Homo sapiens: one gene and its partner. The protein of the gene in region 1 purifies or fractionates together with the protein of each later gene. This does not show direct contact. Each region holds a gene or a part of one and is shown on either strand. Other genes may lie near its edges.

What was found. The genes of interacting proteins can lie anywhere in the genome.
Region 2: the proteins of NTPCR (region 1) and STK38L purify together in Homo sapiens (pull-down; one large-scale study listed by IntAct). This does not show direct contact.

Annotation. Positions count from the first base shown.
Region 1 is NC_000001.11:232,956,972-232,960,627, reverse strand, and holds part of NTPCR (cancer-related nucleoside-triphosphatase), read right to left. Parts: intron 1-3,656. UniProt on the Homo sapiens protein: Has nucleotide phosphatase activity towards ATP, GTP, CTP, TTP and UTP. Hydrolyzes nucleoside diphosphates with lower efficiency.
Region 2 is NC_000012.12:27,317,195-27,320,850, forward strand, and holds part of STK38L (serine/threonine-protein kinase 38-like), read left to right. Parts: intron 1-141; coding exon 142-259; intron 260-701; coding exon 702-825; intron 826-2,133; coding exon 2,134-2,229; intron 2,230-3,656. UniProt on the Homo sapiens protein: Involved in the regulation of structural processes in differentiating and mature neuronal cells.

The DNA of each region.
Region 1 (3,656 bases):
GTTCACGCCTGTAATCCCAGCACTTTGGGAGGCCAAGGTGGGTGGATCACGAGGTCAGGAGTTCGAGACCAGCCTGACCATGATGGTGAAACCCCGTCTCTACTAAAAATACAAAAATTAGCCAGGTGCGGTGGCAGGCACCTGTAATCCCAGCTACTCGGGAGGCTGAGGCACAAGAATCGCTTGAACCCTGGAGGTGGAAGTTGCAGTGAGCTGAGATGGCGCCACTGCACTCTAGCCTGGCTGACAGAGCAAGACTCTGTCTCAAAAAAAAAAAAGGAAAAGAAAAAGAAACAAGAAACATAACCAGAGCAGTTTTGCAAGGTGAACCTGGGTTGTGCCTGGCCCTCCTGAGCCTCTCCTGGAGCTGCTCTTCAGCTCCCGGCCACTTTTTTTTTTTTTTTTTTTTTTTTTGAGATGGAGTCTTGCTCTGTCACCCAGGCTGGAATGCAATGGTGCCATCTTAGCTCACTGCCACCTCTGCTTCCTGGGTTCAAGCGATTCTCCTGCTTCAGCCTCCTGAGTACCTGGGACACGGGCATGTGCCACCATACCCAGCTGATTTTTGTTTTTGTTTTTAGTAGATACTGGGTTTCACCATATTGGCCAGCCTGGTCTCAAACTCCTGGCCTGAAGTTATCCACTCACCTCAGACTCCCAAAGAGCTGGGGTTACAGACATGAGCCGCTGCAACCAGTCCCAGCCACATCCTTACTTCCCCACCTGCAAATAGGCATAGCCCTGCTTGGCCTAATTAGAGAAGTACTTTTTTCTTATTTTTTTGTAGTATTAAAACACACACACACACATACATACAACCCTCAAACTATCTTTCACTCATACATATTGAAATTTCTTACACACAATGGATATTTCTTATTATCGGAATTTGTGTTTTCATAGATCCCAGCACTATGAACTAATACTGTGTCCCTTTATAAAGGGTTTCTAACACTTCCAGTTTACTTGGTTGTTTTCATTGCCAGTATCAAAAATGGTGTGTTTATACTCCCCAGTTTTGTTGCCTAATTATTTTAATTAATATTCTTTTCATTTTTTTCTTTAGTATAAAGACAAAACACTAGTTCCTTCTCCTTTCTTCATTCCCATAAAATATGTATGATGGGAGAAAAATTTCTGCTCCAGAAAAGAAATCCATGACCCTGACTGGGTGAGAATCCTATATTAGTCCATTTTCACACTGCTATAACTACCTGAGACTGGATAATTTATAAACAAAAGAGGTGTAATTGACTCACAGTTCCGCATTGTTGGGGAGGCCTCAGGAAACTTACAATCATGGTGGAAGGCAGAAGGGAAGCAAGGATATTCTTCACGTGGCGGCGGGAGAGAGAGAGTGCAGGGGAAACTGCCACTTTTGAAACCACTGGATCTCATGAGAACTCCCTCACTATCGGGAGAACAGCATGGGGGAAACCACCCCCATGATCCAATCACCTCCCTTCAGGTCTCTCCCTCCACACATGGGGATTACAATTCAAGATGAGATTTGGGTGGGGACACAGAGCCAAATCATATCAAATCCCCTGCCAGGAACTTTTTCTACATGGAATGTACATGTCTGCATTTGGCAATCAGAATACAAAATGTTGGGAGAAGTCTGTATTTCTTTATTTTTTAATTAAAAAACAGATTTATGCTCTGATCTGGTCAGCATATGATCTCTTATATAATCTTGCATCTAGACACTAAACACCTGTGCAAACTCTCCTCCCAGGATTTGGTCTACTCTGTCTGAGCAGGGTAAGTAAAAAATTCTTTGTATTGACCCAGTCAGTTCCTAAAACCAGAATCTTCACTTGGAATTTCATTTGAAGTATTTCACTTGACTTTTGAACATTTAAGTAGAGAGGAATGTATGTGACGGGAAAACAGCTAAAAAGAAAAGTACCATGTTCTCTGCTCCCGCAAAACACAGTGGCCACGAGAGTCCCCAGCACAGGAACTGAGGGTAAGTTCCAAGAGGAAGGAATTGGGGAAGAAGGAGGTGGGAGGAGGAAACACAGCGTAGGAAGAAAAGGAGAACTTGGTGGGTTCCAAGAAGCACAACCCCCTGCTGAAACAGACCATAAGATACCACCAGCCCTCTGAGATTAGAGGATATCCTCAGAGGCTATAGCTAAAATCTTCAGCAGCCTTTGGGCAACCACCACTACATACTTCAGCTGAGCTCTGAATGTCAAGGAGCAGAGAGGCAAAGATCTATGAAGACAGCGTGCTCACCAAAAAAAATGGCAAGTGCCAAGGGCCTCAGCCTGGCATATGTGGGAAGTCTGATTGAACCAGTGTGGCTGAAGAATGGCAAGATGAGGTCAGAGGTTAGTAAGGCCAGATATCACAGGGCTACAGGGCCTTCTAGGCCACTGGAAGGACTTTGGACTTTATTCTTGGTGCCATAGAAAACTCTGGATAGTTTATAGTTGGTTTTTGAGACAGGTCTGTATCATTTAATTTTCACAAATCAAAGTAGTAAGTCTGTAATAGATTAAATGACACTCACATTCCTTAACATGGTCCACAGAGCCCTGCATCTCATGGCCCCCCACCTCACCAAACTTACCTTCTTCACCTGCTCCTGCTCCAGGGCTCTGAGGTCTGAATGTATCTGTTCCTGCCATTTAGAATATTCTCCCCAGACCTCCCCACCCTGACACATACAAATACCCCAATACTAACTCTCTCTCCCCAATGCCCTCTCACCTGTTCCTTTCTGTTTAAATGTCATCTTCCCAGAACTCTTTCCTGGTCCCTTGGTCTAAAGTCAGTTCTTCCTGTCCCTCCCTTTCATAGCACCCTGTTCTTTTCTTTCACAGCATTAATGACCATGACAAGTATAAATTTACTTAGTGTCTACCTTTCCCACTAGACTAACAGTTTTGAAAGAGTAGAAACATGTCTGTTTTGTTCATGACTGTATATGCAGTACTTGATAAATATCTGATAAATAGATACATAAAACTACATAATCAATAAAACAAAAGCTGGTTCTTTGAAAAGATCATCTAAATTGACAAACTTTTAGACTGACCAAGGAAAAAAGAGAAGATTTAAATAACTAAAATAAAGAAAGAAGTGACAATATCACCAATCTTACAAAATAAAAAGCATTATGGGTGAATCTATGAACAACTATATGCCAATAACTTAGATACTTCAGATGAAATGGACAAATTACTAAAAGGTACAAATTACCACAACTGATTCAACAAAAAAATACAAAATCAACAGACCTATAAGGAGAGATTTAATTGGTAATTTAAAAGCTTCTCACCAAGAAAAACCTAGCCCACATGGCTTCTCTAGTGAATTCTATCAATTATTCAAAGAAAAATTAATACGAATCATTCACAAACTCTTCCAAAAATTAGAAAAGAAGGAAACACTTCCTAACTCTATTAGACCAGTATTAACCTGATACCAAAACTAAACAACAATATCCCAAGAAAAGAAAGCTACAGACCATATCTTTTGTGAATAAAGATGCAGAAATCCTCAACAAAATACGCCTGAGTAAACTCTATACAAATAAGACACAGTTAACATCATACATAATGGTGAAAGACTAAATACTTTCTTTCTAAGATTAGGAATAAGATAAGGATGTCTACTCTCACCACTTTTATTCAATGTTGGAC
Region 2 (3,656 bases), on another chromosome or scaffold:
CTTGCACATGATAAACATGCAAAATAAATACAAGTGAAAATTTAACTCCTCTATATATTGCTTTTTCCAGTAGTAAGCCATCCTCAGATAGATATTTTTTAAATGTTAAGAATGCTGGTTTGACGAGTTGCTCCTTTGTAGGCATATTCCACAGTTGGGACACCAGATTACATTGCTCCAGAAGTATTCATGCAGACTGGTTACAACAAATTGTGTGACTGGTGGTCTTTGGGAGTGATTATGTATGAAATGCTAATAGGTATGTTTTATCATTCATTTATGTACAAAATATATACATTTCCTTGAGTGCCATTGTTTGAACATATTACAGATATCATTGACTAAAATATTTGAAGTCTTTTAAGCTTAATTCTGATGTTCCCCCAATGTTAAATACATACTGATCAATACCAGTGAGCTCCCCACGGATCCTGTTTCAGGAAGGTGGGTATTTAACCCAAACTCCCACGTATAAAAGTGGTTATCTACATAGCTTTTCAGGTAAAAGGGGAGGCAGTGCTTTCAATCCTTTATTTTATTGACTTTATTAGCAACGTGATTGTAAATTGATGAATGGTGGCATTTTTGACTGTTAAATAGAGCACTCAGGGTTGTTTGGTTTCTTGTCGCACATGTTTGGTGGGTATAAACTTCACTGCTCACAAAGCTGATGAAACATTTTTGATTTATTTGATACATAGGATATCCACCTTTCTGCTCTGAAACACCTCAAGAAACGTACAGAAAAGTGATGAACTGGAAAGAAACTCTGGTATTTCCTCCAGAGGTACCTATATCTGAGAAAGCCAAGGACTTAATTCTCAGGTTAGTGGTTAAATTCCTAGAGGAGTTCATAGTGTCTTAAAACTTCCTAAGAACCTAAAAGACTCATTTCACTTTTGTGGGGGAAGAGGGGATACCACTGATGTATACAGTCAAAGAGATCAATAAAGGTGTTTTTAAAAATGTAAACTCTTAAAAGGAAGTATGCAGAAAAAAACGTAGGAATTAAAAAGAGGGAGGAAGTCTTGTATTGCTTCTGTTACTGATATATATAAAAGCAAAAGGTCACTTCTGTTAGAATGCAATGACCTGATTCCATTAAAGAGAAAAAGGAAAATGTTAATAGCAGATTCCTGTCATGAAAAGTATATATGTAAAATCTTCTAAGCAAAAAATTCCATGTGTTCCTCAACTAATATGAAGTGTTTTGGTACTGCTGTGAATGGCTGGAAGGAATATAAATTGGGACAACTTGTGGGAATAGCCAGTTGGCAGCATATTATTTTTTTAAAATCCCTAAACTATGTATGACCTTTGACCCAGAAGTTCTACTTCTAGGGATTTCGCTTATGCAGATAATCAGATACGTATAAAGATTTAGGTACACTATGATTTTCATGGTATTTAATAGTGAAAATTGAAAACTATTTAAATGTTCAACAGTAGTGGACTGGCTCAATAGTAGACTGTCTATAATACCTCTATATGTAAATTTTAGAAAACAAATTTATTGGCTGGGCACAGCAGCTCATGCCTGGAATCCCAACACTCTGGGAGGCCGAGTTGGGCAGATCACAAGGTCAGGAAATCAAAACCATCCTGGCTAACATGGTGAAACCCCGTCTCTACTAAAAATACAAAAAATTAGCCGGGCGAGGTGGCGGGCGCCTGTAGTCCCAGCTACTTGGGAGGCTGAGGCAGGAGAATGACATGAACCCGGGAGGTGGAGCTTGCAGTGAGCTGAGATCACGCCACTGCACTCCAGCCTGTGTGACAGAGCGAGACTCCGTCTCACAAACAAACGAAAAAAAAATTTATTGAAAAATATTTAATGACTTTGGCAAATTTTCTCAGTATATCAAGTGAAAAAAAGCAGACCTAACATAGTAACTATGGTAGCAACACAGTATTTTTAATATTGTAAAAGATTAGCATATTTACAGTAGTTATCTCTAAACAGTGCGCTTACAGATGATTTTTATTTTCTTCCACATTTCCTACAATAAACATAGTTAACATCAATAAAAGAAAAACATTATATTTCTTTAAAAAAGAAATATTTGAAGTAATGCAGCTAGAATACTTTAGATGTAACTTGTGTATGATAATTTCTCTGTTTCCATGTTGTAGATTTTGTATTGATTCTGAAAACAGAATTGGAAATAGTGGAGTAGAAGAAATAAAAGGTCATCCCTTTTTTGAAGGTGTCGACTGGGAGCACATAAGGTATGTTCCTAGGCTTTGAATGGGAAAGGTCTGAGTAAAAACAAATTTCTAGAGTTGGCAATTAATTTACCTCTGATTCTGCTAGATTAAATACAAAAGTAACATATAATGTCATTAAGTGCAGTGTTTTCTGGATTATGTAAGTGAGTGGGACTATTGTGGCTACAGCTTGATGACTCATTTTAGGCTAACATCCACTTTCAGGGAAGAACATTGGGAAGCTGTTTAAATTCTTATATTCATATTCACAGTGAAGGCTGTTAGCACATGAAACATGTATTTACATTTCACACAGTGACCCCTCATTTTTGTCCTTGCTGTAATATACCACATACTGTCTCCTTAATTAATTTATAATAAGGTACAGTCCCTCTTTAAACGGTGGTTGGGCATTAAATAATACAAGTAACTTTTAAGAATTTGCTTACAGTTGTTAATTGTGAGCATTGGCTTTTTTCAGTTTATGGCCAAACTACCATTGGTAGTTCTGATCTGTTCTCCACACAGCAACAGTTTAGAAGCATAAATCTGGCCATGCCACTTTCCTGTGGCCTTTTGCACTTGGAATACAGTTAAGAAGCCTTCACTGCTTTCTTAGGACTGCAGGATATGGCGATTGCCTCATCTGCAGGAGTTGCGTCTTGGATGGCCTCTCCTACTCCTCTTCCCACCTCTAAGTTTTGCTATTTGCTATCCATCCTGACTGAAATGCCCTCTCCCTGCTGCCTCTACCCCTACCCTGCCTAGCTGGCTCCTTTGCATCTTCCAAGATAGCTTATGTGTCATTTCCTTGGTACAGCTCTTCACTGGTGAACCTGCTGTGTGCTAGGCACTCTGCCTATTATTATTACTTATTTTTTTGAGACAGGGTCTCACTCTGTCGCCCAGGCTGGAGTGCTGTGGCATGATCATGGCTCACCGCAGCCTCGACCTCCAGGCCTCAAATGATCCCCCCACCTCATCCCCGCAAGTAGCTGGAACTATAGGCATGTGCCACCACACCCAGCTAATTTTGTTGATTTTTTTTTTTTTTTTTTTTTTGTAGAGATGGGGTTTCACCATGTTGCCCAATTGCCCAGGCTGGTCTTGAACTCCTGAGCTCAAGCGATCCACCTGCCTCGGCCTCCCAAAGTGCTGGGATTACAGGCGCCTAGCCCACTCTGCCTGTTGTAATAATAGCTAATTTTTAAAAATCATTTATTGTGTCCAGCACTGTTTTAAGTACTTTACTTGCGTTTCTCATCTTATCCTCATATAAGCTCTATAAAATAGGAACTGTTATTATCCCTGTCTTACAAGTGAGGAAACTAAGGCACAGAGAAGTTAAGTAATGTGACTATAGTGCTGCAGCTAGTAATTTTTTTTTTTTTTTTTTTGAGATGGAGTCTCACTCTGTCGCCCAGGCTGGAGTGCAGTGGCGTGATCTC